Homo sapiens: one gene and its partners. The protein of the gene in region 2 purifies or fractionates together with the protein of the main gene of each other region. This does not show direct contact. Each region holds a gene or a part of one and is shown on either strand. Other genes may lie near its edges.

Region 1 (3,659 bases), on a different chromosome or scaffold from region 2:
AAAAAGCTTATCAAGTGGTTCTGATGACAGCCACCTTTGGGAAACACTGATTTAAGCAGGATTTGTAATGAGAATTAGAATCCCTTTTGGTGATGCTTGTTGGCCAAAGTACAACAAACCCCTCAACAGACACTGTTGCTGGGTTTTGGGGGGAAAATTAGAGGTAACCAAAATGGGGTGGCCAAGCAACGCTGTGCAAGTTCTGGACCTGAGAGGAGATCTGGGAAGAACTCAGCGAACTCAGCACTCCACCCAGAGCCCCCAGCCTGTGCGAGGACGGTGCGGTGAGAGTGGGGTGGAGGGAGCTTATGGGCTCTCCTGGGCCCCTCACCTGGATGGGAAAGATCCCGGGGACGATGGGGCAAGTGATGCCCATGTCGGTGCATGCCTTCACAAAGCGGAAGAATGTGTCAGCCTCAAAGAAAAGCTGCGTGATGATGAAATCGGCTCCCGCAGACACCTTCTCCTTCAAGTGCTTCAGGTCAGCCTCAAAGCTCCCTGCTTCGGGGTGGCCTTTGGGGTAACCTGCCAATAGGGATGACAGTCAGGAGAGGCTGGCCTCCACCTGTTCAAGGCGAGGGATGAAGAGACCACAGGGACTGGGCAGAGAGAGTCCTCTGCTTTGGGGGCTCTGATCTTGCACCTTCCAACAGCACAGCACAGCCTGAACTAAAACAGTGAGTGGCTGGGCTCATGACTGATATGCTTCTGACCCCAGAGATGACTCTCAGGGGAGGTGGCTCAGAGCCCAGTTCCAAGAGTGGGGGTGGATTGCTCCAAACTCCCACACTGTCCTGCCTTGAGCAGCCAAGCAAATCAGGCCTGCACTTGGTGGCCATAGAAAAGAGAAAATGCTACAGTTAGCACTGGCTGGGCAGCATCTGGGGTAGTAAGCTTGACTTTTCTCTAGGCACCGGATTAAACATTGTTTTTAATGTAACACTGAAATTACTCAGGGGTCCAAGATAGTGAAAAGCTAAAAACCAAGTTACACAAGGAAGAACTGAAGAAAGTGATGTTTTCTTCAAAGAAAATAATGGATGGCAGGGTGCGGTGGCTCATGTCTGTAATCCCAGCACTTTGGGAGGCCAAGGCAGGAGGATGACCTGAGGTCAGGAGTTCGAGACCAGCCTGGCCAACATGGTAAAACCCCGTCTCTACCAAAAATACAAAAATTAGCCAGGTGTGGTGGTGTATGCCTGTAATAGCTACTCAGGAGGCTGAGTCAGGAAAATTGCTTGAACCCACGAGACAGAGGTTGCAGTGAGCCGAGATCGTACCATTGCACTCTAGCCTGGGCAACGAGAGCGAAACTCCGTCTCAAAAAAAAAAAAAAAAAAAAGAATGAAAAGAATACAGAAACTCCTTTCAAATGTCCAAAGGTCTGTCCTGGGGAAAAAGGATCCACCATAGGTGAGTTTGTTTTGTTTTGTTTCAGAGACAGGGTCTTGCTCTGTCACCCAGGCTAGAGTGCAGTGATACAATCATGGCTCACTGTAGCCTTGAACTCCCGGGCACAAGTGATCTCCCACTTCAGTCTCCTGAGTAGCTTGGACTACAGATGCAAGCCACCACATCTGGCTAATTAAAAAAAATTTTTTTAATTAATTATTTATTTTTTAGAGATGGGGTCTTGCTATCTTGTCCAGGTTTGTCTGGAACTTCTGGGCTCAAGCAATCCTCCCACCTTGGCCTCCCAAAGTGCTGAGATTACAGGCATGAGCCACTGTACCCAGCCCCCTAGTGAAGTTCTTTATTAGTCATATTCTGTGTTGTTTCTAATGGCAGAACCAGCATCCGGTTCAGAGAGCTGGCTAGAGTACTATAAGCCACTCACAAAACAATGAGCTCCTGGAGTCTGAAAACACAGGGGCAGTGGATGCTGAAGACAAGATTCCAGAATTGCTTAGGAGGTGGGATCAGATGTCCCATAGGCTCCTTACTGGCTCTGTGAACTCTCTGACCCCTTTCCTCAATGACTAAACTTACTAGCCGCCTTGCTCGGTCAGGCAAGCAGGATGACCATAGGCCTTCATGAAACTACATGGAGTGCTGGTTTCATCAGCCCAAGCCCAGGGCAGGACTCTGAGCCAGGCGGAAGGCCAAGCTGCTTTGCTCTGATAAGGCAGTTCCGTTCTTAAGAAACCCAGAGTCATCAAAAAATGAATATAAAAACTATTGTTTCAAGGGGTAAGGGAGTGGGGGATAAAGCAATGGGGCTTCACACTTGCAATAACAAAGCTATTTTCCCAGTAGGAATTTCAGAAACAACAAGGCTTTTTAATAGCTGAAAAGTATAGCTACAATACCTAAATATCACCGAACAAATCTAGCATTTGATTACGTATAGATTTTGCTATTTACTCTATTTTTCTATCATGAACAGCTGAGGGCTTTCTTTTTTAAAATGTTTTTATTTTTTGTAGAGACACGGTCTCACTGTGTTGCCCAGGCTGGTCTTGATCTCCTGCCTCAGTCTCCCAAAGCTCTGGGATTACAGGCATGAGCTACCATGCCCAACAGGTTGGTGTTTTCTAATCCACTCATCTTCATTACCCACTTGATAAGCAAAGTAAGAAACCATTCAGCAACTGTGAGCTCACAGCTTCACTAGTTTCCAATCATTATCACCTAACGCCCATCACGGGTGCATATTCCCCCAGTAACTGACTATATAATGGCTGATACAAGCGATGACAATTTAACAGTTGGAAATGTCTGTTCTCTGACTCCTAATCAGTGCTTCCCAGACTTAGCACCTAAACACCCCTGTTGACAGAATGGACATGTCCATCGGGGGTTAGGGACAAGGCCAAAGTTACTCACAACATGTAATTTTCTTGAAGCCACGTGGTTTGTTTTTTGGGTTTTTTGTTTTGTTTTTTTTGAGACGGAGTCTGGCTCTGTTGCCCAGGCTACAGTGCATTGGTGCGATCTCGGCTCACTGCAAGCTCCGCCTCCTGGGTTCAAGCGATTCTCCTGCCTCAGCCTACCAAGTAGCTGGGACTACAGGCACGCGCCACCATGCCCGGCTAATTTTTGTATTTTTAGTAGAGACGGGGTTTCACTATGTTGGACAGGATGGTCTCAAACTCCTGATCTCATGATCCACCCGCCTTGGCCTCCCAAAGTGCTGGGATTATAGGCTTCAGCCACCGCACCTGGCCTTTTTTTTTTAGTTCATATCACTTTAGATGCTACTCCATAACATAGCCATGTTTAATATAAAAATGGTAGGATTTCTCCCAGAATATTGGCAAAAAAACTGTCATCCCAGAAAATGTGCCAATCCCGGGACTTCCTGTCCCTGGTGCACACTGTCTTGCCATACCTGAGCGCTGTCTGAGACGCTGAGGGCTCAATGCCAGCCTTCAGCTTCAAGGGTGGGAGAGAAGTCCAACCCACCCATTTCTGTTGGGGGAACCTGGTCTTGTGGCTGTGGCCAATGGTGATTCTCTTTCCTGGGAATTTGGAACGGAGGCCTGTCCATTAGCCTGGGGAACTGGCTGGAACTGACACTCTGCACACTCAGGAGCAGGCCAGGTGTGTGGAAAAGCATGGGTATCAGGTCTCCCAGATGAAGCACAGATGTGCAGTGGGAAGCGGAGATGGGGGACCCTGTGGCCCCAGAGGGAATGAGGGAGGGCCTTGCTTTTTGA
Region 2 (3,465 bases):
AAGGGCACCTAGGGGTGTTACAAAATTCTTGTAGCCTTATAAAAACCCTAAAGAACATTGCAATCAGGGCTCTTGAGCTGCCCGCTAGGGCCGGCTCCCGCTCCGTGGAGTGTACTTTCATTTAAATAAATCTGCGCTGTCATTGCTTTGTGTGTTTTGTTCAATTCTTTGTTCAATGCGTCAAGAACCTGGACATCTCACAGTCAGCACTTTCCATCTGGTACCAATTTGTACAATGAGAGGAATGTAGGGAAGGAGTGATCAAATAAGCTAACTGTGATTGTGAAATGACACGAAGTCTTTGCAGTGCTATCAAGACTATTTTTTTTTTGAGGTGGAGTTTCGCTTTTGTTGCCCAGGCTGGAGTGCAGTGACGCCATCTCGGCTCGCTGCAACCTCCGCCTCCCGGGTTCAAGCAATTCTCCTGCCTCAACCTCCCAAGTAGCTGGGATTACAGGCACGCACCACCATGCCCAGCTAATTTTTGTATTTTTAGTAGAGACAGCGTTTCTCCATGTTGGTCAGGCTGGTCTCGAACTCCCGACCTCCGGTGATCTGCCCACCTCAGCCTCCCAAAGTGCTGGGATTACAGGCGTGAGCCACTGCGCCCGGCCCGCTATCAAGACTATTAACATTGAAAATGGACACAGACTGGATTTCATTTGCCTTTAATTAAACACAAAGCTGTTACATATTTTTCTCTTCTAATAGCTGCTGGAAGTCTAAGCATATGGAAACGATACCTATGAAAATCAAATGGACATTTTGGGCTTTGTGGATCATTAAAGGTTTACACTTAAAAATTATTTTTTAATTAAAAAAATAAAAATTAATTAAAGGATGACAAATACATTGGGATGTTACTCAAAATGATAATCCTGTCTGCAGCTCACTTCAGTTATTCCTTGACTAGTTCTCTCACCGTCCATAGATTTTATCCTCACCAGGAAATCATGGCACACTTGCCTAGATATCACTGTGCACATGGGAAAACACTCGCAACGGGCTACAACTGTGCAGATGACCATAACTCTTCCTCACCCTGTGAGGAACTCTAGTTTTCTGCAGAACACAATTTTTCCATCAGTGTGTAGGGGCAGCAAAGTGACAATGCCAAATATATAAGGCAATTTAAAATTATTTCACAAAGGTATTAAAAACAAACACCCACATTGTGGTTCAAATCCAGATGAAGTACCTGGTCCCAGATGCCAATGTCCAAACTCATAAAAACATATGACATGGGCCTGGTGCGGTGGCTCACGCCTGTAATCCCAGCTCTGCGGGAGGCCAAGGCGGGCAGATCACGAGGTGAAGAGATCGAGACCATCCTGGCCAACAAGGTGAAACCCCACCTGTACTAAAAATACAAAAAATTAGCTGGGCGTGGCGGGGCACGCCTGTATTCCCAGCCACTTGGGAGGGTGAGGCAGGAGAATCGCTTGAACCTGGGAGGTGGAGGTTGCAGTGAGCTGAGATCGCACCACTGCACTCCAGCCTGGCAACAGAGCAAAACTCCGTCACACACATTCACACACACACACACACACACACACACACACACACTATATATATATATATATAAAATGTATACATCATGCCCTAAAATTTTTAATATTTGCAGAAATGAGGCTGAACCATAAATATACCTTTTGTCTCTTTTTTTTTTTGAGACAGAGTCCCACTCAGTCGCCCAGGCTGGAGTGTAGTGGTTCGATCTCTGCTCACTGCAAGTTCCGCCTCCTGGGTTCACGCCATTCTCCTGCCTCAGCCTCCCGAGTAGCTGGGACTACAGGCACCTGCCACCACGCCCAGCTAATTTTTTGTATTTTTTACTAGAGACAGGGTTTCACCGGGTTAGCCAGGATGGTCTTGATCTCCTGACCTCGTGATCCACCCGCCTCAGCCTCCCAAAGTGCTGGGATTACAGGCGTGAGCCACCGCGCCCGGCCAGGGAAATAATTATTGTTTCTTTTTTTCTTTTTAATTTGACACACGGTCTCATTCTGTCACCCTGGCTGGAGTACAGTGGCAAGATAACTCATTGCAGCCTGGACCTCTTGGTCTCAAGCCATCCTCCACCCTCAGCCTCCTGAGTAGCTGGCTCTACAAGTGCACATCACCATGCCTAGATACTTTTAAAAATTTCTTTTTATAGAGACTGTGTCTCACTATGTGCCCAGACTGGCCTTGAACTCCTGTGCTCAAGTGATCCTCCTGCCTCAGCCTCCCGAAGCTTTGGAATTACAAGTGTGAGCCACTGCCCCTGGTCCTGCCGTTATTTCTGTATTACTGCTCACTATTTCCTAACTCATGAGCAGTTCTTGAAATAGTATTAAAAAAAAAGAAATAGTATTTAAGACATATTACATGGTGGAACTATAAATGAATTCATGATGAGATTGTCACTTACTGAAGCCCGATCCTTTATTCTGCATTCCCTATTATCTACCTTGTCAAGTTTGATACTATACTTTATTCTGCCTTGATATTATCCAAAAAAAAAATTTTTTTTTTTTTGAGATGGAGTCTTACTCTTGTCGCCCAGGCTGGAGTGCAGTGGCGCAATCTTGGCTCACTGCAACCTCTGCCTCCCGGGTTCAAGCGATTCTCCTGCCTCAGCCTCCCAAGTAGCTGGGATTACAGGCGCCTGCCACCACGCCTGGCCAATTTTTTGTATTTTTAGTAGAGACAAGGTTTCACCATGTTCACCATGTTGGCCAGCGTGGTCTCGAACTCCTCACATCAGGTGATCCACCCGCCTCGGTGGGTCCTGGGATTACAGGCGTGAGCCATTGCTACTGGGCTCCAATAAAGTTTAAACTTGTTTTATTAGTTATCTTTTTATGTCTTTTGCTAGACTTATTTAATACTTAAATTTATAAAACCGTTACGTAAGTTTTTGTCATTATGAATAAACAAGAATTTATTAGGCTGGGCGCGGTGGCTCACGCCTGTAACCCCAGCACTTTGGGAGGCCGAGGTGGGCAGATCACAAGGTCAGGAGATCGAGACCAGCCTGGCCAGCATAGTGAAACCCCGTCTCTACTAAAAATACAAAAATTAGCCGGGTGTGGTGGCGGGTGCCTGTAATCCCAGCTCTTCAGGAGGCTGAGGTAGGAGAATCACTTGAACCTTGGCGGGGGGGTTGCAGTGAGCCAAGATCACGGCACTGCACTCCAGCCTGGGTAACAGAGCGAGAATCTGTCTCAAAAAAAAAAAAAAGAATTTCTTAGACAAAATTATAACAGTATAGGAAACAAATGTACTAGAAAGAAAATGTCTAAATCTGAATGCATCTGGTAATATTAATTCAGAAGTATAATTCTTTTTTTTGAGACGGAGTCTCGCTCTGTCACCCAGGCTGGAGTGCAGTGTCGCAATCTTGGCAAGCTCCGCCTCCCAGGTTCAAGCCATTCTCCTTCCTCAGCCTCCCGAGTAGCTGGGACTACAGGCACCTACCAG
Region 3 (2,467 bases), on a different chromosome or scaffold from region 2:
TCTAGGTCAAGCACCTTATCAATCACAAGGCCTGGTACATAAATGGATAAGCAAGAGCTCTAATTAAGATGAGTGACTGAGGAGCTCGATGTGTGAAGGAATACAGGTAGGATTCAGCCTTCCATTCACAATCAAACTCCCGAAAACTTGGCAGGGAAATTAGATGGAGCCCATGGTTTGGATCCAACCTGGACCTTATTTTTTTATAGTATTTCTAAAAATAGAGTCTCATTAATGTCCAATGGCTACTAAGTTTTGTCCTCTCAAAATTAAAATAGCACTTGCCATTATCCAGTAGGAACTACAGTCAGCATTTTGGTTAATATCCTCCCAGTCATCTTTTGATATTCTAGATGTGTATCTAGTTATGCATAAGTACATATATAAAGTGTTATATAAACAGGCTCATCCTGTATATCCTATTTTAAAACTGCTTTACCACTAAACAATTACTTCCTAAAATCTTAATACCTGTTATTTCTTGTAAACTTTGATTTACTCCGGAGAAATCGGTCTGAAACAATTAGCATCTCACCTCTTTACTATCAGGCATATCAAAGGTTATTACATTAACAAAAAAATACATCAAGTTGACCTGACTTCATTTATGTAAGAGGTAGAAAATCTGAGTAAAGTTTTTTTTTCATTAATTAAATCCTATTTTAATGTAAATCCTCTTATAATTCCTCGTTTCACTAAAGTAATCTTGGAATCACTAAAGTTTTGTGGAAGCACCACCTATCTGGGGGAAAAACTGCCTTTAAACACCTGCAAATTGGGTTGATAGTATCTGGTTAAGAGGTGGTATCAGTCATGTAAGAGTAAGATTGTGACCGTTTAGTCATATTTAATAACCCACTTACATAACCCTTGTTATTTAATTCAGATACGATGTTCAGCTTGTATTTCTTGATAATAACCCCCCTCCTCCAAACCAACACAGATGTACACACCCAATCAGCGTGCATGACTGCTGACTGGCACTCTTTCCAGTGACTGTTTATTGAGTGTCAGGAACACAACTGTGATTATACAAAATGAAGTGGACAAACGGTCTTGCACAAATGACGTACATTTCACAGTTAATCGTGAAGGTTAGAAAGGTTAACAAGTTCTATTAGTACTTTTCATAAGCAGTTTGATTTCTGAAAAATACAGTAACATAATTTTAGTAACTACTAAAATTTCTTTAAAACTCCCTATCAATCTGAAGAACAAACTAAAAACCTGTTTATTACATGAATGCTACTTATGAGAATTTAAAATATGGGTTCACTTCCTATTTTCCACAAGTCTTTGACTTGTTTATTTACTAAATTAACAGAACGTGGGATGCAGTTTTTTAAGTTAGCAACTTCCTTAGGGTTACTGGGAAGTAGAGTAATTATGAAAAAGGGAACACTTCAATTATTGTATAAAAGATTGCTTTGCATACTGATTACTTCTTGAACCCCAAAAAGTGCTATTTAGAGGCAAGGGCCCATTTTGTGCCCATTAAAAGAAATATACAGGTGAATGTCTGTCTCATCCCTCTAATCATATGTAATAAAATTATATCGCTGTCAATAACAGCAAAGATAATGATATATTAATTTTAACAGCAGTTAGAACCAGAAGGAAAAGGCTGTTATACAGAAAAACATACAAATATGTAGGTAGAAGTGAAAAACTGAAGAATGTGGAGTGTTTACTGTCCCGTTACTCACACAGACGTGCTGGATTCAACACCCACGCTGAATCTCCATTTATTCCACGGAGGTGGAGTTCACCATGGTTCGACTGCCCACCAGATCCCCAAATGTCAAAGTGAAACAAAACTCAGTGAATTCTAGATGACTGTTTTACTTCCCCTAAAGAAGTTATCTGTAAATAAGAAAAATCAACTGATAGGGGGAAAAAAAAAAGATCTGTCATTTGTCAACAGATGGACGAAGACAAGCTATTGACTCAAAGAGAACCTGCCGCGAGTCTTAGTCTTTGGAAGGTCAGACAGCTGCAGTGTTCGGTCACATGGAGATGGTGTCTTCATGTCTCAGAGGCCGCATTCTGTAGGCCAGACGTGTGCTCACCAACCTATACAAGGGTCAGGGCAGTCCCGCAGGTAAGTTTCGAATTGACCTTTGGTAACATCTATCAAGGTTGTGTATACGGTCAGCTGAAAGAAAAGTTATTTTTACTTTAAGGACGTTTTCAATTCAGAGATGTTCTGATATATATTAGCATTTCTATACTTGTAGAATTTGCTTTAGAAGTTATTTAATATTAAATAATATAACTTAATATATGCAAAGCATGTTATATAATGTATATATTTATATTAATATAGTATAATCATATAAAATTAGCTAAAGTCTCACCAAATAACTAAAGCAAACAACTTCAACAGGATCACTGTTTCAGGTAATGAATATAAACAGGCTCAGGAAAGAATCTCCAGCTCCTTATAGGAGCTTATTCCTGACAGCAC

Evidence for each region.
Region 1: the proteins of ZNF556 (region 2) and MTHFR purify together in Homo sapiens (affinity purification with mass spectrometry; one large-scale study listed by BioGRID and IntAct). This does not show direct contact.
Region 3: the proteins of ZNF556 (region 2) and ASAH1 purify together in Homo sapiens (affinity purification with mass spectrometry; one large-scale study listed by BioGRID and IntAct). This does not show direct contact.

What each region holds. Positions count from the first base shown.
Region 1 is NC_000001.11:11,795,875-11,799,533, forward strand, and holds part of MTHFR (methylenetetrahydrofolate reductase (NADPH)), read right to left. Parts: intron 526-3,659; coding exon 332-525; intron 1-331. UniProt on the Homo sapiens protein: Catalyzes the conversion of 5,10-methylenetetrahydrofolate to 5-methyltetrahydrofolate, a cosubstrate for homocysteine remethylation to methionine. Represents a key regulatory connection between the folate and methionine cycles.
Region 2 is NC_000019.10:2,880,633-2,884,097, reverse strand, and holds the end of ZNF556 (zinc finger protein 556), read right to left. Parts: 3' UTR 653-3,465; downstream 1-652. UniProt on the Homo sapiens protein: May be involved in transcriptional regulation.
Region 3 is NC_000008.11:18,055,469-18,057,935, forward strand, and holds the end of ASAH1 (acid ceramidase isoform a preproprotein), read right to left. Parts: intron 2,156-2,467; coding exon 2,066-2,155; 3' UTR 524-2,065; downstream 1-523. UniProt on the Homo sapiens protein: Lysosomal ceramidase that hydrolyzes sphingolipid ceramides into sphingosine and free fatty acids at acidic pH.